Regions from separate parts of the Homo sapiens genome. Here region 2 is linked to region 1. A link means that fine-mapping ties the variant in region 1 to the plasma level of a protein whose gene starts in the linked region. Region 1 holds a variant in brackets. A gene starts in the other region. All regions are shown on their reverse strands.

Region 1 (16,152 bases):
AGAGAATAATTTAGGGAAAATTACCTCTTTCTTTATCTTGTAGAATAATATCAATAGAATTGGTACCAATTCTTCTTTGAATGTCTGGTAGAATTCTGCTGTGAATCTGTCTGGTCCTGGACTTTTTTTGTTGTCGGTAATTTTGAAACTACCATTTCAATCTTGCTTCTTGTTATTGGTCTGTTCAGGGTATCTAATTCTTCCTGATTTAAGCTAGGAGGGTTGTATGTTTCCAGGAATTTATTCATCTCCTCTAAGTTTCCTAGTTTATGTGCATAAAGGTGTTATAGTAGCCCTAAATGATCTTTTGTATTTCTGTGGTGTCAGTTGTAATATCTCTTGTTTTGTTTCTTAGTGAGGTTATTTGGATTTTCTCTCTTCTTGTCTTGGTTAATCTTGTGAATGGTCTATCAATTTTATTTATCTTTTCAAAGAACCAGCTTTTTGTTTCTTTTATCTTTTTTTTTTTGGTTTCAATTTGATATAGTTCTGCTCTGATCTTGGTTATTTCCTTTCTTCTGCTGGGTTTGGATTTGGTTTGTTCTTGTTTCTCTAGTTCCTTGTGGTGTGACCTTAGATTGTTTAGAAAGACTTAGAAAGTTTTCCAGACTTTTTGATGTAGGCATTCAGGGCTATGAACTTTCCTCTTAGCAACACCTTTGCTGTATCCCAGAGGTTTCGATAGGTTGTGTCACTACTGTCATTCATTTTGAAGAATTTTTAACTTACATCTTGATTTCATTGTTGACCCAATGATCATTCTGGAGCAGGTTATTTAATTTCCACATAATTGCGTGGTTTTGAAGGTTCCCTTTGGAGTTGATTTCCAGTTTTATTCCACTCTGGTCTGACAGAGTATTTGATATAATTTCAATTTTCTTAAATTTATTGAGACTTGTTTTGTGGCCTATCATATGGTTTATCTTGGAGAAAGTTCCATGCACTGTTGAATAGAACGTATACTCTGAGGTTGTTGGGTAGAATGTTCTGTAAATATCTGTTAAGTCTATTTATTCCAGGGTATAGTTTAAATCCATTGTTTCTTTCTGTGACTTTCTTTTAAATCCATTGAGACTTTCTGTTTTGATGACTTGTCTAGTGCCCTCAGGGCAGTATTGAAGTCCCCCACTATTATTGTGTTGCTGTCTATCCCATTTCTTAGGTCTAATAGTACTTGTTTTATAAATTTGGGAGCTCCAGAGTTAGGTGCATACATATTCAGGATTGCCATATTTTCCTGTTGGGCAAGGCCTTTTATCCCTCTTTGTCTTTTTAAACTGCTGTTGCTTTAAAGTTTGTTTTGTCTGATAAAAGAATAGCTACTACTGCTTGCTTTTGGCATCCATTTGCATGGAATGTCTTCTTCCACCTCTTTACCTTAAGTTTATGTGAGTCCTTATGTGTTAGATGTGTCTCTTGAAGGCAGCAGATAATTGATTGGTGAATTCCTATCCATTCTGCATCTTTTAAGTGGAACATTTAGACCATTTACATTCAATATTAGTTTTGAGATGTGAGGAACTGTTTAATTTATCATGCTAATTTTTTTTAGTTGTATTTTTGTTTTATAGGTCCTGTGAAATTTATGCTTTAAAGAGGTTCTGTTTTGATGTGTTCAGGATTCATTTCAAGATTTAGAGCTTCTTTTATCAGTTCTTGTAGTGCTGGCTTTGTAGTGGTGACTCACTCGGCATTTGTTTGTCTGAAAAAGACTGTATCTTTCCTTCATTTATGAAGGTTAGTTTGGCTGGCTACAAAATTCTTGGCTGATATTGTTTTGTTTTAGGGGGCTGAAGATAGAGACCTAATCCCTTCTAGCTTGCAGGGTTTCTGCTGAGAAATCTGCTGTTAATCTGATAGATTTCCCTTTGTATCTTTCCTTCATTTATGAAGGTTAGTTTTGCTGGGTACAAAATTATTTGCTGATAATTGTTTTGTTTAAGGAGGTTGAAGATAGGGCCCTAAGCCCTTCTAGTATGTAGGGTTTCTGCTGAGAAACCTGCTGTTAATCTGATAGGTTTTCCTTTACAGGTTACCTGATGCTTTTCCCTTGAGGTTTTCCTTTATAGGTTACCTGATGCTTTTCCCTTGTGGCTCTTAAGATTCTTTCCTTTGTGTTAACTTTAGATAACCTGATGACAATGTGCCTAGGCAATGATCTTTTTATGATGAATTTCCCAAGTATTCTTTGAGCTTCTTGTATTTGGATATCTAGGTCTCTAGCAAGGCCAGTGGAGTTTTCCTCATTTATTCCCCCAAATACGTTTTCCAAACTTTTAGATTTCTCTTCCTCCTCAGGAACACCAGTTACTCTTAGGTTTGGTCATTTAATGTAATCCAAATCTTTTTGGAGTCTTTGTTCATTTTTTCTTTGTCTTTGTTGGATTGGGTTAATTTAAAAACTTTATCTTTGAGGTTGAGGTTTTTTCTTCTGCCTGTTCAATTCTATTGCTGAGACTTTCCAGAGTATTTTGCATTTCTCAAAGTGCATCCACTATTTCTTGAAGTTTTGATTGTTTTTTTATTTATGCTATATATTTCACTGAAGATGTCTCTTCTCATTTCTTGTATCATTTTTTGATTTCCTTAAATTGAACTTCACCTTTCTATGATGCCTTCTTGATTAGGTTAATAGCTGACCTTTTGAATTCTTTTTCAGGTAAATCACGGATTTCTTTTTTGTTTGGATCCATTGCTGGTGAACTAGTGTGATTATTTGGGGGTGTTAAAGAACTTTGTTTTGTCATATTACCAGAATTGTTTTTCTAGTTCCTTCTCATTTGGGTAGACTATGTCAAAGGGAAAGTCTAGGGCTCAAGGCTGTTGTTCAGATTCTTTTGCCCATGGGGTGTTCCCTTGACATAGCACTTTCCCCTTTTCCTAGGGATGTGGCTTCCTGAGAGCTGAGCTGTAGTGATTGTTATTGTTCTTCTGGATCTAACCACCCAGCAGGTCTACCAGGCTCCGGGCTGGTACCTGGGGTTGTTTGCACAGAGTCATGTAATGTGAATCATAGACCATGTGCTTTAAAACAATGTTCTCAATTTATTAAAATTATTTTCCTTCTACAGTGATAGCTTGTTTTTCTAAATTTAGTATCCCTGAGAATATAATTTTAATAAGAAAAAAATTGTGTCTCTTTTTATGTCTGCTTTCTGGGGCTGGAGGTGGATTTGTTTTTGAGTAAGTCCTGTAAGTGATGCATGTTTCCTCATGTGCTTGGTAAAACTTAGTGTTGATGAGGGGTGTCCACACTAAATGGTATTGATAGCTGGAGCATGTATTCTCAGGCAAGAAGAGAAATCCTGTTTGCCTGTAAGTGAATATATTTCCTAATAGTAAAATTTCCTTTAAATGTGTTTGTAATGCAATATTTTTAAAAAACCTGTTATCGCTGGTGACAGAGCAGGAGTATTGCCATCTTGGACAAGCACTGTCATTTTAAGTTCACCTTGATCAAAAACTGCCTAAATCCAAAGGTCATCAGCCTTCTGGCTAAGGTCAGCATGACCATAAACCACAAATAATATCTCTGACCAAAAAAATTCCAAACCTCTCCCCTACCAGAGGCATGCCAGACCCGAGATAATCTCCCCTCCACCCAGAGACAGTCTGACCCCAACATAAACTTCTCCCCCACACAGAAACATTTCAAGCTTGTGATAAACCCCCTCACTCTAAAACCAATGTATACTCTGTTGCTGCTTCTGAATCCTATAACCCCAAAGGGCCTAGCAAGGCCAACATCTCTGCCATTGGCTCCTCAAAACTCTGTCTTCCTCTGCTTTTGAATGTTCCAGTTTGAGAGTAAAATTTAGGTTGAAGACATCTCCCCAACCTGTCTCCTGCTGGTGAGATATTCCTCTACAGTTTAAAGCCCCCTCACGAATGCCCACTCATTTCATTTTATTTTTGTACTTAAATAAAATCAACTTTATATGTATTTTTTAAAATATTTTAATATTTTCAGCTTTATTAGGGTATAAGTGATAAATAGAAATTGTATATATTTAGGGTGTGCAACTTCCTATTTTGATTTATGTATACATTGTGAAATGCTCACCATAATCTAGCTAGTTAACATAGCCATCGCTTCACATAGTGACCTTTTTTTTGTATATGTGTGGTGAGAACACTCAAGATCTGTCCTTTTGGCAATTTCAAGTATTCAATACAATATTTTAAATTATGGTCTCCATGCTGTACTCGCCTACTCATTTTAGGCATGGTCAGGTGATATATAAACTCAAACTATTTCTAAATGTGATCTATTTCCTTTTCTACCATCTTATGGGTAACTATTTGTTGGAATATAATGCCTTCAAATTCCTTTAATATTCCATTTGCTTTCACGTTCTCAGGTGGTTTTTTTTAAATACTTTCTTTAAATATGTTTATGGAGTTCTCCACAGTGAGAGATAGGAAGTTGATAAATTCTAGTTCTAATAAAAGAGGCTTTATTCAAACATATTTTGTCCAACTTTTCCCCACTGTGGGTAATGCCACTTAGGAATTATTCTATCAGAACAGCATCTGACCTAAACCTTGACCTCATATATTACTCCTGCCCCTTGCTAGCCTTAGTAGATCTCATTTTCATTGTTTCTTTTCTATGAGAGCTGACTCTTCAAATATCTTGATTATGTTTCTCTCTCACACTGGAAATACCTGCATCTTTACCTACAACATATATGTGAATCTGAAAATCACGTAATACTATTTCGGCTAATTTTCCTGGTTTTCTCTTCTCAAATATGTGCCCACTTTATATAACTAGTTCCTGGGGAGGGGTCTCTTCTGTTAGTTTTCTGTTATTTGTTTACTTTTTTGGATGTTAGTAGTCACCCTTTCCAATCTAGAAACAAAAACCTCTCTTTTTCAGTTTCTTCTTTCTGAGTAATTAGATGCAGATTCCTTTGATGTGTGCCTAGCCCGGCCTCCAGATTCTCATTTTTCCTGACATTGCTCTCTAGTAAATTCCTCAACCTTTCTCCTAAGAAAGTCTTTCTTCCACAACAGTAACCAGGCCTTCTTGTTTTCCCTTTATTCTCCCATGACTTCCATTCTTATAGTTACATTGAAGAGTACCAAAAAACAAACTAAAATAAAGCAAAAACCGAAAACCCGCCTTTTTCTCCCAGAGACAGTATTCCGAGAATGAAACTTTTTATATTTCTGATTTCCTTTTGAGTTAGTGGTAATTTAATTGAGTTGTTTCAGCCCAAGAAAATAACATACATACTGTATTTAATAAAAAACCCAATTATTTTAAGTGGGTGAAGGTATAGATGAGTAATTTAGGAGTATTAATATAATCAGTAAATTGGAGAGACCATTTGGTGAGTGTGACTCACAGTGTGACAAGGCATATGAATGTAAGAAGTTTCCTTTCATCGAGTTTCCTTCGCCCTGGAAACTGATGCAGGTTAAGTCCTAACGATGCAGGGACTAATGATTTAGGGATTAAAATCTTATGCATTGATAGTCTGTAGCCTAGCATCTAGCTGCCATCCCCCTGTTTTTATTTTCTTAAACAAGCTTTATTTTTAGAACAATTTTAAATTTATAGAAAAATTGTGGAGCTAGCACATGGAGTTCCCATGTGTCTTGCACTCAGTTTCTCCTATCCTACAATACCATGGTATATTTGTTACAATTAATGAACCAATTGTCACATTATTATTAATTAAAGTTCATATCTTATTCAGGTTCCTTTAGTCGTGCCTCATGTATTTTTCTGTCCCAGGACCCCATCCTGGACGGGGATTTATTTATTTTATTTAGATGTTGGGTCTCCTTAGGTTCCTCTTGGCTGTGACAGTTTCTCAGACTTTCCTTGCTTTTGATGACCTTGATGATTTAAAGAATACTGGTCAGGTATTTTGCAGCATGTCTCTTTGTGAAGATGTGTCTGATAATTTTCTCTTGATTAGACTGGAGTTATGGGATTTTTGATTAGAAAGACCTCAGAGGCAAAGTTAATGTGCCATTTTCATCATGTCACATCAGGAGTATATACTATCAACATAACTTGTCCCTTTCTATGTTGTCCTTCGTCACCCAGAGGAGACAGTGTTTGAAAGTCTTTTTCATTGTAAAGTTATTCTTTCCCTCCCTCTTTCCAAGTGTAAGGAGTGGAGAGTTATGTTCCACTTCCTTGAGTATTCATACAAATTCTTTAGAACTATTCTGCATGAGAGGTTCATCTCTTGTCTCTCCCCACTCCCCCCACTTTTTAATGAGCCCTTCCTCACTTTCTGGTTCTACAAGGGATTTCAGGTTCATCTTGTATATTTCCTGCCCCAGTCGTAGAATCAGCCATTTCTCTAAGGAGTCCTAGTTTCTTTTTTCAGATAGTGGCATCAGAAACCAAGATCTGGGTATGCTCATTGCTCTTGTGTGTCTTTGCTTCTAGTCCCTTAGTAACCTGTGTTTATGTACTTATACAGAAATATTTCTTTATGTAGAAATAATTGGTGTTTATATATATCCATATTAAGCTAAACTTAAGTTCATACTGACATCTCCGACTCTGATCCATTAGTACATGGATCATTCCATCTCCCCCTTGCTTATCTGCAAACTCCTGCTCCAACAGTGAGAAACTGCCTGCCATGATCTGCCATCCATTTATTAATTGTTTAATTTTGGTATACATGTGTAAAAACATCAGAATCGTTAACCAATAACTTTATGAGAAACAACTTTATTAACTATACTGCAGTACTTATGTGTAGTTTCTTTGACCTTTAGTTTTACAGACTCCACTTATTTTCAAAGTTATGTAGGCCAGCACTTTTGTCCCTACCGTCTTCAGTGAGAGTTTTTTATACTAACTGTGATACAATTAAGTTATATGGCCATTTTCACGATATTGATTCTTCCTACCCATGAGCATGGAATGTTCTTCCATTTGTTTCTATCTTCTTTTATTTCATTGAGCAGTGGTTTGTAGTTCTCTTTGAAGAGGTCCTTCACGTCCCTTGTAAGGTGGATTCCAAGGTATTTTATTCTCTTTGAAGCAATTGTGAATGGGAGTTCACTCATGATTTGGCTCTCTGTTTGTCTGTTATTGGTGTATAAGAATGCTTGTGATTTTTGTACATGGAACAAACTACTTTAAAGTTCATATGGAACCAAAAAAGAGCCCACATCACCAAGTCAATCCTAAGCCAAAAGAACAAAGTTGGAGGCATCACACTACCTGACTTCAAACTATACTACAAGGCTACAGTAACCAAAACAGCATGGTACTGGTACCAAAACAGAGCTATAGATCAATGGTACAGAACAGAGCCCTCAAAAATAATGCCACATATCTACAACTATCTGATCTTTGACAAACCTGAGAAAAACAAGCAATGGGAAAGGATTCCCTATTTAATAAATGGTGCTGGGAAAACTGGCTAGTCATATGTAGAAAGCTGAAACTGGATCCCTTCCTTACACCTTATACAAAAATCAATTCAAGATGGATTAAAGACTTAAACGTTAGACCTAAAACCATAAAAACCCTAGAAGAAAACCTAGGCATTACCATTCAGGACATAGGCATGGGCAAGGACTTCATGTCTAAAACACCAAAAGCAATGGCAACAAAAGACAAAATTGACAAATGGGATCTCATTAAACTCAAGAGCTTCTGCACAGCAAAAGAAACTACCATCAGCATGAACAGGCAACCCACAAAATGGGAGAAAATTTTCGCAACCTACTCATCTGACAAAGGGCTAATATCAAGAATCTACAATGAACTCAAACAAATTTACAAGAAAAAAACAAACAACCCCATCAAAAAGTGGGCGAAGGACATGAACAGACACTTCTCAAAAGAAGACATTTATGCAGCCAAAAACACATGAAAAAATGCTCACCATCACTGGCCATCAGAGAAATGCAAATCAAAACCACAGTGAGATATCATCTCACACCAGTTAGAATGGCAATCATTAAAAAGTCAGGAAACAACAGGTGCTGGAGAGGATGTGGAGAAATAGGAACACTTTTACACTGTTGGTGGGACTGTAAACTAGTTCAACCATTGTGGAAGTCAGTGTGGCGATTCCTCAGGGATCTAGAACTAGAAATACCATTTGACCCAGCCATCCCATTACTGGGTATATACCCAAAGGAATATAAATCATGCTGCTATAAAGACACATGCACACGTATGTTTACTGTGGCACTATTCACAATAGCGAAGACTTGGAACCAATCCAAATGTCCAACAATGATAGACTAGATTAAGAAAATGTGGCACATATACACGATGGAATACTATG[T/C]GGCCATAAAAAATGATGAGTTCATGTCCTTTGTTGGGACATGGATGAAATTGGAAATCATCATTCTCAGTAAACTATTGCAAGAACAAAAAACCAAACACCGCATATTCTCACTCATAGGTGGGAACTGAACAATGAGAACACATGGACACAGGAAGGGGAACATCACACTCTGGGGACTGTTGTGGGGTGGGGGGAGGGGGGAGGGATAGCATCGGGAGATATACCTAATGCTAGATGACAAGTTAGTGGGTGCAGCGCACCAGCATGTCGCATGTATACATATGTAACTAACCTGAACATTGTGCACATGTACCCTAAAACTTAAAGTATAATAATAAAAAATTTAAAAGGTAAAATAAAATAAAAATAAAAATAAAAATAAATAAATAATAAAGAAATTATATTGTCACATTTTGCATTTCATCCTGACATTCTCCCAAACTCTTAAATGATTTTTAAAATTTATATGGATTTTCACTCTTTGAACTGCAAAGTTCAATGCGTTTTGGCAAAGTGTCATTTGGCCACAATTACAATATTGTACAGGATATTTTCACCACCCTAAAAAATCCCTAGTGCTTCACCTATTCAACCCTCCTCTCTCCCTCCCTCCAGGAAACCACTAACCTTCTATTTTTAATCTTCTTTATAGAGTTTTGCAAACATTTTGCAAATATTTACAAGTTGATTATTAATTTATAAGGAGAACCAAAGACCTAGAATAGTCAATATAATACTGAGCAAGAATAAAAGTCGAAAGATTGGAATGACCAAAATCCAGAACACTGACAACACAAAACGCTGGTGAGGATGTGGAGCAACAAGAACTCTCCTTCATTGTTGGTGGAAATGCAACATGGTACAGCCACTTTGGAAGACAGTTTGGTGATTTTTTTATAAAACTAAACTTACTGTTACCATATGATCTAGCAATCATGGTGGAACATCATATAATTAGAATCATAGCATATGTACCCTTTCTATACTGGCTTCTTTTCACTTACAACATGCATTTAAGATTCATCCATGTTCCTTCATAGATCAATAGCTTCTTTCTTTTTCTCAGTGAATAATATTCTACTGTATGTGTACACAACAGTTTTTTAAAATTCATTTGCCTGTTGAAGGACATCTTGATTGCTTCTGGTTTTCGATGATTATAAATAAAGCTGCTATAAACTTGTGCATGTAGGTTTTTGCAGAAACATAAGTTTTTAAATCACTTGAGTGGATAGCTAGGAGTGCACGTGATGAATTACATAGTAAAACTAGGTTAAGCTTTGTAAGAAACTACCAAACTGTCTTCCAAAGTGATCCTATCATTTTGCATTCCCACCAGCAATACATGACAGTTCCTGTTTATCTGCATCCTTGCCAGTAATTAGTATTGTCAGATTTTTTTTCATTTTAGTCATTCTAATAGGCATATAGTGATATCTTATTGTTGTTTTAATTTTCAGTCCGTAATAACATACAACGTGGAACACTTTTTCATGTTTATTTGCCATCTGTATATCTTCTCTGGTTGAGGTGTCTCCTTAGATCTTTTTGCCTATTTAAAAATATTTTTGTAATAAAGACTTTATTTTTTAAAGCAGTTTTAGGTCCCTAGCAAAATTGAGATGAAAGTACAGAGATTTTCCATAGATTCCCTGTCTTCACACATGCATAGCCTCCTTCATTGTCCATATCTCCTAACAGAGTGGTATATTTGTTACATTTGATGAACCTACATTAAAACATCATTATCCCCCAGAATCCACAGTTTACATTAGGATATGCTCTTCATGTTGTACATTCTATGGATTTGAACAAACTTATAATGACATATAGCCACCATTATAGTATCGTGCAGAGTATTTTCATTGCCTTAAAAATCCTTTTGGCTTTAACTGTTCATTCTTCCTTTTCCCTAACCCCTGGCAACCACTGATCTTTTTATAGTCTTTATTGTTATAACCTTTCCAGAATGTCATAGAGTTGGAATCATACAGCCTTTTCAGATTGGCCTGTTTTACTTAGCAATAGGCATTTAGATTTACTCCATGTTTTTTCATGGCTTGATAGTGCATTTCTTCTTAGCACTGAATAGTATTCCATTGTATGAATGTACTGCAGTTTATTCATCCATTCACCTACTAAAGAACATCTTGGCTGCTTCCAAGTTTTGACAAGGATATATAAACAAACATTCATGTGCAGATTTTTGTGTGGGCATAAGTTTTTAATTCCTTTGCATAAATACCAAGGAGTGTGATTGCTAGATCATATGGTAACGGTACGTTTAGTTTTGTAAATGAAATCACCAAACTGTCTTCCAAAGTGGCTGTACCATTTTGCATTTCCACCAGCAATGAAGGAAAGTTCTTGTTGCTCCACATCCTCACCAGTGTTTGGTGTTGTCAGTGTTCTGGATTTTGATCATTCCAACCTTTCAACTTTTTTCTTCTTCAGTATTATGGTGGCTATTCTAGGTCTTTGCTTCTTCTTATAGTCTTGGCTTGTGGTCTTCCCTGAGAAATATTACAGGAGGTAAAAATCATTTCATCCATCTGAAATGGTACTCTTGTTGTGGGTTTTAATGGGACTGAAGTGCTAGTTCTCTAACATTATATACCTTTTCCAAGAGCTTTGAAATGCAAAGCTAAGTTTCAGTGAGTCAAGGTAATGCCAGCCACAGTGGTCTCACATCAGTAACAGAGGACCTCACACCAGGACCTTAGAAACCTTCCTTGTAAAGATCATAAAGTTCTCACACTAAAGCTTCAGTGGCCTTGTAGTAAGGCCATGAAGGTCTCTCACTAGAGCCACAGAGATTTCTTACCAAGTTCTAAATGTCCCCTTAGCTTTTTGGCTCATATGTGCTTCTTCACTTAGAAACCCAAGTTTTGCATTACTTCCAAGCAGGTTCTTCTAATTTCAACGAATGGAAACTGTAGAGTTTGCCTAAGAATTTGCTGTCATTTTAATAGAGTAAAAAAAAAACACAGGATTATTTCATGTTACTCTTTATGTTTTACTTATGAGCCCAAATAGTGATTAGCAGTCTGTCTGTACTAGTCTTCTGGCTTTTGATGATGGGAAAGTAAGGAGTCCAATAGGATGTTTTGTTTTATCTGATAGGTTCTTAATCTTTAAATGCAAGGTATCAATTTGTAACCACTTCTGCTCCAATGATCTCACAGAAGATAGAAATAATTATTACTTAATTCCTGGTCTTGGACCTGGGTGTTAATGACTGTTAATATAACTAATATTTGTACATAGTTTAAAAGTTTACAATCATTTTTACATAATCTATGTTTCTTAATATGTAATTTTGTGACCTAAGAATTTTATGCTCCATTTTAAGAAAACTGCCCATAAAAGCCACTAGTAAGCTGTTAAGTACTAAATGCATTTATTTATCGTAAGGGAAGAAGCTAAGGTTCAGAGAAATAGGTAGTAAAGAAGCTGTTCTCACTTCCAGGCACCACCCACTGCTTTCCATGGTATTCAACATCCTGCCCTACCCTTTTATTCTTTTCCCAAAGGAGTGAACAAAGCAAAGTGCCAGCAGACATCAAGATCTGGAGGCACAGAGTAGAAATCCAGTTCACTGACTCTGGCTTGCCTGATTGTGCAGGGATTGGTCTATTAGATCTGACACAAAGCACAATGGGAATGTGGCATTTAGGACACAGAGGGCGCCTGTTCCCCAGGTAGGAGGAAAGAATTCAATATACTCAGCTGCAAATATCAGCCTCTTAGTCAAGCATTGGGGTTTCTGTGGAAGATAAAAAAGAAAGTAATATGCAAAAGGTCTTGCTGATGCCTGAAATGTGGCATTTTACAAGTATTAGGAACCCAGATTCTGGAGCGAGAGGGTCTGTGTTTGAATCCCAGACCCAACCTTACTAGCTTTGTGACCTTGGGCAGCTTACCTAACCATTTGTGTGCTTTGGTTTTTCTTTTCTATAAAATAAGGAGTGTTATAATACTTTTTTTTTTTTTTGAGATGGAGTTCCGCTCTTGTTGCCCAGGCTGGAGTGCAATGGCACTCTCTTTGCTCACTGCAACCTCCACCTCCCAGGTTCAAGCAATTCTCCTGCCTCAGCCTCCCAAGTAGCTGGGATTACAGGTTCCTACGACCACATCTGGCTAATTTTTTTTGTATTTTTAGTAGAGATGGGGTTTCACTATGTTGGTCAGGCTGGTCTCGAATTCCTGATCTCAGGTGATCCACGCACCTGGGCCTCCCAAAGTCCTGGGATTAAAGGCGTGAACCACCCCGTGCCCGGCCTGATTGTTAGAACACATTAATTACATTACCCATAAAATAATTTAATGACTTAAATTAATCAGTATTGTAAATCACTTAGAACAGTGCCTGGCAATGCTATTTATTATTATTGTTGTTGTTATTATTCTACCATGAGAGTTGAGGATGAAGATTACTGTGCTAAGTGGAAACATTTGACTAGAAATTAAAAAAAATCAAACAATACTCTTACCCTGGGCCATGAGAGTCTTCTCTGGGTCAATTTATATAAATTAAAACATTAGTTATTCCAATAAAAAATTTCTAGTTCATTTCTACATGTACATTTTATATTTCATTGGTATTAAACTATTTGGTCTATAGGGTCAGGATGATGGAGGAAATTCAGAGATATTTTGTCTAATACCAAACCTGGAATTTTCAGTGCACGGGAGAGTTAAATAAACACATAAAGGCTTAAAAATTACGGTTGTTGAAACTGAAGCCAGTTTTTCAAACTATGGTTCTTAGTGCCAGCAGTTTCTCTTAGTTTCTCTTCTATAGCTGATTATACCAGAGGCAGGAGCTATGTTGTGACATTGTACCTCCACTGTTATTTAGGATTATATAGTGAGAAAACTGAAGCCTGCAATCACAAAATCTGTAGCGCATTGAATTCAAAAAATAGAAAATAGGAATAGAGAGACTTCTGTTGTCTTCGGAGTATATTTTGTCAGTTATACTCGCACTGTCTGGTTATACTTGCATTGACTCCTTTTAGGAAAAGGAGGTGAAAATCAGAATCCTAGCCATATGGATTTTAGACTGAGGAAGTATTATAGCAAACATTTAGTTCAGTCATGTTTAAACAACTTTTTGGTAATTTTTTAGTCCCGATATAATTTCAGAAGTACAGAAAAGTTACAACAATAGTAAGAATAACTACTCTTAGCCTGTACCCAGGTTCACTAATTGTTAAGTTTGCCCCATTTGCCATCTCATTTGTGTTCTCTCTCCCGCTCACACACACACACACACACATATACACATATATATTTTTCAAAGCATTTGGGAGTAAGTTGCAACACGATGCTCCTTTACTCCTAAATACTTGGATGTGTATATTTTGGAACAAAGACATTCTCTTATATCGTCACATGCCATGATCAAAAGCAATAGGTTTAGGTTTAACACAGGACCCACTCATTATCTAATCCACAGTCAAATGTAAATTTAGTTAATTGTCCTGATAATGCCCTTTATAGACAAATTATTTTTCCTGGTCCAGGATCCAATCTGGAGTCATGCCATGCATTTATTTGTCATGCTTCTGTGGTTTTCTTTAATCTGGATCAGTTTCTCAGCCGTCCTGTCTCTTTCATAACCTTGACATTTTTGAAGGATATGCCAGTTGTTATTTAGAGCATCTCCTGATTTTGTGTATCCCTGAGATTTCCACATGATTAGATTTAGGTTTTTCTTTTCTTTTCTTTTCTTTTTTTTGAAAAACACCACAAGAGTGATACTGTTTCTTTTTCAGTGAATCAGTATCAGAAGGTAGATGATACTGGTTTGTCTCAATATTGGTGATGTTAGCTTTGATCTCTTGGTTAATGTGGAGTTTGTCAGGTTTCTCTGCTTTAAAATTACTATTTCCGTGTTTATAATTAAAAGTAATTTGTAGGGAAAAACTTTGAGACTATGCAAATACTCTGCTTAGCATTAAAATTTCACCTATTAATTTTAGCATCCATTGATGATTCTTGTTTAAGCAAATTATTAATTACTATGATAGTTGTAAGAAACAGTTATTTTTTAACTGTATCATTTCTTCAACATTCAATAATTGGCTTTATAAAGTAGATTTCCTTTAATCATTTATTCCAGTTTGCATTTTTAGCTTCATATTTTATTTGGAGAAAATTAATTCTATAATTATTAGAATTCTATGTAATTATGGAATTCTATAGTTCATTGGTATTATGACATATTCATACTATTAATGTTCAAATTATCCTGCATTTGGCCAATGGGAGAGCTTCAAGCTGGCTCCTGAGTCTTTTTTTTTTTTTTTTTATAGTATATCCTTATTTTGCATCCCAAAAAAGAATCAAGAATTAGCTTGTGCTTTTACTGCCATAGGCCTGAAATCAGCTATTTTTCCAGGGATCCCTAGATCCTTTGGGATCTATTTAGAGTGCAGAATGCTATTTCGAAAACAGTATCTGGGAGGTAAAGGTGCTCATTATTAACTGTGATATTCTTTCTTTTAGGCAGACAGAGCTAGGAAACACATAAAATATATATATATATATATATATTTTTTTTTTTTCCTTCTCTATTAAAAACTGAATTCATACTGATAACTTCATGATATGGTCTGGCTCATCTTGAGCCAAACCCACCCAAATCTCATCTTGAATTTTAGTTCCCATAATCCTCATAAGTCTTGGGAGGGAACTGATGGGAAGTAATTGACTCATGGGGGCAGTTCCCCCCATGCAAATCTTGTGATAGTGAGTAAGTTCTCATGAGATCTGAAGTTCTCATGAGATCCATGTGAAGAAGGAAGTGTTTGCTTCCCCTCCCACCACGATTGTAAGTTTTCTGAGGTCTCCCAGTCCTGCAGAACTGTGCGTCAATTAAACCTCTCTCCTTTATAGTTTACCCAGTCTTGGGCAGTTCTTTATAGCAGTGTGAGAACAGACTAATATTCTTCAATTCCAATTCAAGACCACATGCTACTCTTGCCCTTTCTACATTTACAGTTCCCTTCAAGAAACTTGGCTTCCATTATGCTTAATATATTTACAGTCATCCCTCAGTGTCCACAGTGGATTGGTTCCATGACCCCTGTGGATACCAAAATCCTCAGATGTTCAATTAGGTTTGGCAGATGTGAGGATGTGATACTGTGAAATATGCATTTGGTCTTCCTCCCCAGTTTCCTAACATACAACTCCTAAAATCCTTGTACTCTCCAAAGTGCTTGCTTTTTTTTATACTTATATTGACTGATAACTTCAGAGTGAGGCTGGTCACCAGAATGACCAAAGACAATATTAGAGGGTTGAGACCTTCAGCCCCATCCCCCAACCTCCAGGGAGGGGAGAAGGGCTGAAGGTCAAGTTGATCACCAATGGCCAATGGTTTAATCAATCATGCCTATGTAACCTCCACAAAAACACAAGAAGACAGGCTTGGAGAGCTGCCAGGAGGGCAGTATGCACAGGGAGGGCGTGGAAGCTTCAGGCTCCTTCCCCCATTAATGCATCTCTTCAACTGTATCCTTAGTAATATCCTTTATAATAAACTGGTGAAGGTTAAAAAAGAAAAACAAACCCACAGAAATGCATGGCTGACTGTATACATTTGTCCCACCTTAGAATATCAAAAAGTAGTTTTAGAATTGCTAATCCATATCACTGGAGGGTAGGGGATAACATTAACTAGAGCTTAATATTTATTTAGTATTTTTTTTTTGTCTTTAGACTTGGGGAGTATAGTCCAAGTACTATGTTGCAAGATAAGTCAGTTACTTTTTTCTTTCAGTTTGGTTATGCTATTCATTTGCAATATTTAAGTTTATTTGTTTTTTTTTTGTTTTAAAATTCTACTTTATTTCAT
Region 2 (8,000 bases), not on the chromosome of region 1:
GGAGTGGGCCCGATGCTCCCAGGCAGAGAGGGTTAGAGCTGGGAGCCACTGGCCAGAGAATTTTCCAGATCACAGAGTTGGCAGCAGAATCTCTCTCTGAAACCAGGAAAGCACCCAAGGGGAGAGAGAGAGAGAGAGCTTCCGGCCCCTTGAGGACTGAACTGTTCAGGGGATGTAGACTCACCACCCCTTTTTCCCTCCTCCTTCAGCTTAACCCCCAAGGAGCAGAAACCCAAGCTGGGAAGGAGGAGCCCCAGAAAGAGGGAGAAGGAGACTGCACTCTCTTCTCCCGCCAGAGGCCTCAAGCAGTTCTGAGCTGAAGGAATAGAGCAGGTCTGGCTTTATCTTCTTATGCTGACACTTTAATTCCTGAGATAATCCTGGTCTGGGGACTAGAAGCGTCCAGAGCGTGTTTTATCATCTAAGTCACCAAAAAAGTTATCTGACGGCTTGAAAGTTCATTCAAGGGCTGAGGAGGAGTGAGTGGAAGCCCAGGTCCAGTGTAAAGGGACAGCGAGAGGAAAGAATAAGGTTACTTTTTTTCTCAATGTCTGCCCTCTCCCTAGAGTGTGCGTTTCCTGAGGGAAGGCGCCCACGTTGCCCCTGTACAGGATCGGAGGGCAGTTGACTCTACTGGTGCCCTGTGGGCCCTGGGCTCTTCCCCTTGCTGCCATGGGTGCATCTGCTACAGGCTCACTCCAGTAACCTTGTTGGGCGCCTGCTTCTGAGCCACTGGAGTGGCCTGGCTGGGGGTGCCCGGGAATTCCACAGGTGTGCCACAACACCTCTCAGCCACCTGCAAGCCTGCAGCCATGTCTGACTGATGTGGGCAGATGAGGGCTCTGCTCCCTCGCTCCAAGATGGGACAGGCTCTGAGGAGCAACTTCTGCTCCAGGTCTCCCTGTGGGGTCAGGCTGAGGATAGACTTGAAGCCACTTTATTTGTCTAACCTCCCCCTTCACTTCTGCTTCTTCACCCCATCACAGCTTCCTTGTGAGCATTCCCCTAATATGTCACCTGCACCTGAATGCAGGGCTCGGATTCGGCTTCTGGTGGACCTGGCTGAATCAGTCAATATCAGCTGGATGAATGAAGAACTTTTACTGAGAGGCTTTCTGGGACTCTGGAATGCATGGCCCAAGGAAACATTGGGCCACGTGGAAGAAAGTCCTTCTAGGGTTAGATTAGATGTCCTCTTTCAGGTGATGTACAGGCTGAGGACTTTAGGAATTGTGGGCTATTGCTCCTACTTGTCATGTACTTGGAGGGCTAGGAGGATGGAAGGGTAAGTTTTATCATTGTTCACCTCATTGGCTCATCCGGGCTGGCCTAGATGTGCTTGTCATGAACAGGAAGCCTGTGAAGGGAAGTGTGTGTGTGTGTGTGTGTGTGTGTGTGTGTGTGTGTGTGTCTCACGTACCTGGTTCGGGAGTCCAGGAAGGCCTTGTTGACTTGGACCTTGGCCTGACTCACAGTATCGGAGATGGCAGAGGTTCTGGTAGTCTGCGCTTGGGGTTGGAGTGGGGAGCAGGAAGTAGGGTGTCAGACACCACTCCTTTGCGATGTCTTCTGCTTTTGTCTCCCTCTTTCTCGGCCATTACCCCCACCCCTCAAATCTGGGTAGGCAGGAGATCAAGATTAGGAAAGTTTCATAAGAGTCCTTAAGGGGAAAAAGCACAGAATGGGAAGAATACTCTTGGATCTTCAACAAGATGTCAAAATTGCTCTTTGAGATCTCACTAGAATGCCCAGAGATGGGATGAAGAGGGAGTGTGGCCACTCAGGGTGGCTTGGGCTACTGGACTGTGGGGATTTCTCTGGTTCCTGGTGAGATGGTCTTGTGGACTATCTCAAGTTCATCAAAGAGGACCCACTGATCACCAGGACCCTGACGTACAGAAGGGGATGGCATGAGAGTAATGGTGGGATTCCCTGTTCCCTCTTGTATTGGGGTCTGGAGCATGGAGGACAGGATCTGTTTTCTCAACAAGGAGAGTGTAGTGGGTTAAATAATGGCCCTCCCAAAATTCACATCTGCATGGAACCTCAGAATGTGACCTTATTTGGAAGTAGGGTCTTTGTAGATGTTATGAATTAAAATGAGGTCATACTGCCTTAGCATCGGCCCTAAATCCAATAAATGGTGGTTTTATGAGAAGAGGAGAGGACACCCAGTGAAAAAGGCCACGCAAAGACTGAGGCAGAGATTGGAGTGTTGCAGCTACAAGCCAGGGAACACCAAGGATACCAGGGCCACCAGAAGCTGGAAGAAGAAAGGAAGCATTCTTCCCTAGAGCCTTCAGAGGGAGCACAGCCCTGCCAACACCTTGATTTTGGACTTCTATCCTCCCGTACTGTGAGAGAATACATTTCTGTTGTCTTAGGCCATCCAGTTGGTGTGCTTTGTGACAGCAGCCCCAGAAAACCCGTAAAGGGAGACACTCACCTCTTGTGGTAGATGCTGCAGCCTGAAGCAAGATGAGGGAAGCCAGGAGGGCTGGGAGATGGAGAAGGACCCTCATCACTGAAACGAGATGCAGGATCACACTGTGAGCCTCTCTAGAGACCAAGTGGGAGGGTTTGAACCACAGAAAGCAGAGAAAGCCAAAGGAGCACCAGACACCCTAATATTGGAACAGGAAAGGAGAAACCACATTAACGAATGAAGCATCTACCATACACACAGGCCTGTGCTAGGTACTGGGAGAGATGGAAAGAGGAGAAGACATGGTGGAAGGGAAAGAACTCAGGCTTCAGGATCTAAGGCCCTGAGTTATCATTCTGCATTTGCTCCAATAGCTCTGTGACCTTGGGCAGGTTACTTAACATCTCTGGGGTCCTGGCTTGCTATGGGAGGAGGTGGGACCAAGTGATCCAGAATGTTCAATTCTGCCCTGACAGCCTGTGGTCGGGAGATGCTGTACCTGTCTTGTCACAGGTGTGAGAAACGCTGTTACCAAGGCTGGAGCCTGCCTTTGAGTTCCCCTCCCTCCTTCCCTGCAGGATGCATTGCTCCCTGCAAGCCAGTTTCCTCTGGCCCAGCCCCAGGAGAGAATGCCTGAGAGGCAGACACTCAGCGCCTCCCTTCGGAAACCTGGCAGGGGCTTCCCCTTCCCTCAAAGTGCCAACTTGATGGCAATACTGAAAGAAAGTTATGACAAAGCTCAGAGCTCCCCTGAGCCCACAGCTGTGCCCCAGGCTGCCTGGAAAGATTCCAGCTCATGGATTAACCTCTTTGCCATGAGCTTTAACTCTGAATGCAAATCTTTAGACTGAAATTTGTGAAGCTTTGTTTTCTGATGAGGGTCTTCACTGGGCTTAGTGGAGCAGACCCCATACATCTTCTGAGGAGATTCTGGCTCCAGCCCGGGGTGGCAGCCACAGCGTGCAGATGGAATGATTGTGTGTTTAGACCATGGTCCTGAGAGGCTCCTCAGCTTTCACAAGGGCGCCTGTGCTCTCCCTGCAGCACGGCGTTCACTGGTGGAATCCAGAAGCACACTAAGGAGAGCAGCCTCAGGTTGCCCCCCAGCCATGTCTCCCCAGGGCTCAGCTCCCAGAGAGAAATCATAGTTCTGGAGCTTTGCCTGACAGACTTCCCCGTATGTCTTGCAGACCCTCTCCAAATCATCTCCCTTTGGAATAGGCCAGACCAGGAGACCTCTGTATATGGATCAGGTCATTTCAGCCTCCTTCACCCCTGCCTGCCTCCAATTTTTCCCTCTGCCCTTTCGTGGTCCCCCTAATAATTTGTATCTTGTTGTACTTTTTGCCAGCTAACTCTAGAGAAGGGGCAAGGCATGAATAAATACCTCTCTGGCCAAGATTCTCTCTGTTACTTCCCCCCACCCCAAGATGAGTTCTCAAACAGCTTGACCTCTCAGTGGGCTCTTGTCCTTATAGTTGTATGGCCCCAAGGAGGAAGAGATTCTGTGACCTCCTATCCCTCTGTCACCATATTTTGCAACTTCAGGGGACCCATTGCAGGGTTCATTGAGTTAGCAGAAATCTGCCCTTCAGACAAACAGAGATGATGGTTTTGGAGGAAAAGGTATCATTGACTTTAAAAAACAAACTATGGTAAAAAACATGGCCAGGTGTGGTGGCTCATGCCTGTAATCCCAGAATTTTGGGAGGCTGAGGCAGGCGGATCACTTGAGGTCAGGGGTTGGAGACCAGCCTGGTCAATGTGGTAAAACCCTGTCTCTACTAGAAATACAAGAATTAGCCAGGCGTGGTGGCAGACACCGGCAATTCCAGCTACTCGGGAGACTGAGGCAGGAGAATCCCTTGAACCTGGGAGGTGGAGGCTGCAGTGAGCCAAGATTGCGCCACTGCACTCCAGCCTGGCTCAAAAAAAAAAAAAAAAAAAAAAAGAAAAAAGAAAAGAAAAGAACAACAACAACAAAAATCCACATAGCATAAAATTTAGCATCCTAGTCATTTAAACTCTACAGTACTGTAATGTTAGGTATATTCACATGTTGCACAATGGATCTCTAGAACATTTTCATCCTGTAAAAACTGAAACCCTATACCCATTGAACACCAACTCCCTATTTCCCCTTCCCCCTAGCTCCTGGCAACCACCATATCACTGATTTTTTTAAAGAGGGCTGTGGGCACAAACATTCATTATATTGTTCTTTGAATGACTAATGCGTTTCCTAATAAATGACAAACACAAAGTAAAAAATTAGTCCATTTTTTAAAAAGACATCATCTGAGACAGCCTGAGGAAGACAAAATCATAGAAGAAGACATGAAAGTTGAGAAATTTGAACAGGAAACAATACTTAAATATTCAATTCTCCTCTCCTCTTCTTTAGGACCCCCTTCATGCTCTCCTCACTGGAAAGTGGAGGAGGGGGACTTCAAGGCCAGAGAGAAATTATTTTCCCATGTCTTGGGCAATGTTCCTGGTGGGTGTGAGGGACGGGTATGAACAAAAATCAGAGCCAGGTGAATACAAGGTCATGTCACTGAAAAGGGGGTGTGCAGAAAGATTCTAGAGGGACACTGTCTTCAGCCAGAACCACACAGGGCAAGAGGGCCTGGGGCTTTAGAGTGTAAGAGGCCAACAAGAGGCTCCTGTGATGTGTAGATATTTATCCATATTCTTATCAACATGCTGAGTGCAGAAACCATTTCCCAAGCCCTTTGATTTGCAGCAAAGCCTGGAGCCTTCCCTGGGACATGAAGCACTATCTGGAGACAGAGCCACAGCCTTTGCCCCTCAAATGCCAGGCTGGTCCACAATCCCATGCCTCTACTCATGCTCTTCCCTATACAATACCCTCTCTGGCTAATAAACTCCTATTCATTCTTCAAAACCCAGACCAAATTTCACCTCCTCTGTGAAGTTTACCAGTTTTCTCCAGGAAAAGTTAGATCGTTCCTTTTTCTGTCCTCCCACAGTATTTCATCCATATCTCATATTACTGTCTTCACATCTGTTTCCCCTATCAGACCATGAACTCCTCAAGGGCTCCATCTTATTTATTTGTTTTCCCAGGACCTAAGCATGTCAATACATAATAGGTGTTGGGTGCATGCTGAATGAATAAAACTCCTAGAGCAGAGAAATTCAGCATCTGGAGGTTGCAGAGGGAGAGGGCAGAGATAGTCCCTCGGCAAGCCTCTCACACTGTAATGTGCCTACTATCACCTAGGGATTTTGGTAAATGCAGATTCTGACTCAGAAGGTCATAGAAGGGGCCTGAAAGTCTGCATTTCCAGTAAGCTCCAGGTGATGATGATGTTGCTGGTCTGCAGACCACACTCTGAGTACCAAGGCCTTCCAGACTTTGGTTCTCAATGTCGCTGAGCAGTCACCAAGGAGATAGGGGGAAGGCCTGAGAAGGGATGAAGTCAGTGAGATTCTCTTCCATGATTGTAAAGAGCCCTGTGGAGGGTGGTGGAGTGAGCCAATAGGAAAGCCATAATTCTTGCCCCATCACCTGCAGGAACACTCTCTTGATCTTTTGAGTGACTCCAAGATCAGGATGAGAATGAAGAGATAGCTCTTATCAAGCCCTCTAGAGCGGAAATAATCTACTTCAACTGAAAGATTTGAGGCACACAATTGCATAAAAAACAAATATAATTTAACCACCCCATTCCCCCAAAATGAAGCCTGCCTACTACCGCTGCATACAGGTCACACACCTGCTTGAGAGCCAGGTGTCCACAGGGCACTTAAGACAGCTAGGACTAGACATTGAGGGCAAACTAGATGGTCGGATCTGCTGCAGATGGCAGGCATGAGATGCTGGAAATGAGATGAAGACCTGACAGCTCCGGCTTAGGGAACCCCTTAAAACACTGCAAAATCTCCACTATAGTGGAGAGGCCAGATTTCATCACACTGTCTCAAGAACAGCACAGGGAGCACCATTCTGTCACTGTTTTCCCCCAAATTCCTGTGTGACTCTGGACACATTAAATTGCTTAAGTCTCAGTTCCTAAACAAGGTGGATAAGAGAGGTCTATGGTACCTTCCAGCCCTAAGAGTTTATGATTCTCTGACATAGTTTTCAGACACAGAAAAGCCTTTTTCCCCCACAGTGGTGGGGGGAGGCTTAATTACATTCTCTCTTATACCAAACAAGAGGAGTGTGCCATGGGGTGGCTAAAGCTGGCACCAGAAAGTGCCTGATAGAGACAAGTCTAAATCCAGTGTTAAGCTTTCTGAGAAGACGTTAGGAAATTTCATCATCAACTTTGCAGAAACCAGGAAAGATGAAAGTTGACGAGTCTTACCTGCCCAGTGCCTTGTCTTTTCACGGCAGCCAGGGAGTTGCTCTGCTTGGAGGAGCTGGTCTTTTATACCTTCCAGCAAGAATTCACTTCTGGGAAAGGCCCAGAAGGAAAGATTTTGATGTGGCTTGGAGGAGACGCTGAGGCTTAGCAGGAAAGACTGTGTGACTCCGGGCAGATACACCAGGAAACTGCAGAATGGCAGGGATTGGTTGATGCAATAGCACTGACTGTGGGTGAAGCAACTCCTCTTTCCATTTTCTAGCTTAAATGCATGATCCTGATCTAGTTCCGGAAGGCAAAAACTGCATGCCCTGAGCACATTTGTCCCTTTTAAGCTCCTAATGGGATCCGAATAGCTCTTAGAATTATGAACAATTATTAGGTTGGTGCAAAAGTATTGCAAAAACCGCAATTACTTTTGCACCTAGCTAAATGGTTCTCCTCCCCATTCATATATTCACTGCCCTTTGATCCCTCCCTTACATTCCACCCAATTTACTGTGGAATCCAGTGGATTCATCTTTTGGATTTAAAGTGATCAATAAACATTAATTTTTTTGGTCAAAATTTCAAAATACTTTTGGCCACCAAAGGGTGAGAAGAGCCCTAAGCTTTCATAGTGGGTTGCAGTCCCTGCCTCTGCCATTGTATGGCTCTAGGCAAGTCACTTCACCTTCTGGTGTCTCAAATTTTCTAGTATTGAAATCAATGGTTGGTTTTGGTGATTATTATGATTCTATGACTTCATGCCTTCTATAGGGTGACCCATTTAAAAAACTCCAGAATCTGGGAGGCCAAGGTGGGTGGATCACTTGAGGTCAGGAGTTGGAGACCAGCCCAGCCAACATGGTGAAACCCTGTCTCTACTAAAAACACAAAAATTAACCAGGCATGGAGGTGCATACCTGTAATCCCAGCTACCTGGGAGGCTGAGGTGGGAGAATCACTTGAACCTGGGAGGCAGGGGTTGCAGTGAGCCAAGATCATGCCATTGCACTCCAGCCTGGGTGACAGGACGAGACTCTGTCTCAACAAAACGAAACAAAACAAAACCACCACTATCGTATAAATTATTGACCTAAAGCTCAAGCATAATGTTACATACCTTTCCTACCTCAATGACTTTGGAAATTCAAGTTCATTAGATTCATACAAGAAGGAAAAAGGAAGATTCCGAGAAAACAAAATTTCATGAAAGTATATTTTACAGACAGACAATTTAAAACATAATAAGCCTC

Direction of the effects. Positions count from the first base shown, and alleles are read on the strand shown. Strength reflects both the effect of a copy and how common the allele is.
For the plasma level of the protein whose gene starts at base 6,918 in region 2, allele T in region 1 goes with a lower level than allele C (strong association).

The links. PIP is the posterior inclusion probability: the model's chance that the variant is causal. Protein levels are from antibody-based Olink assays in UK Biobank. Linkage for the fine-mapping came from a reference panel and not from the study's own genotypes, which makes the PIPs less certain.
Region 2: LPO starts here. The variant in region 1 is fine-mapped to the plasma level of the LPO protein (UK Biobank, PIP above 0.99).

Annotation. Positions count from the first base shown.
Region 1 is chr12:11,205,085-11,221,236 of GRCh38, reverse strand. The region is part of intron 1 of LOC107987435 (a long non-coding RNA gene); the gene reads right to left. Among named protein-coding and RNA genes, the nearest start is that of TAS2R42, 26 kb to the right of the region's middle. The variant T/C (reference allele first, on the strand shown) is at 8,283.
Region 2 is chr17:58,237,502-58,245,501 of GRCh38, reverse strand. LPO (lactoperoxidase) reads right to left here and starts at 6,918. Exons shown (of 13, transcript NM_006151.3): 1 at 6,763-6,918; 2 at 2,447-2,524; 3 at 1,421-1,508. The coding sequence starts at 2,522. LOC124904038 (a long non-coding RNA gene) reads left to right here. Exons shown (of 3, transcript XR_007065862.1): 2 at 210-333; 3 at 987-3,824.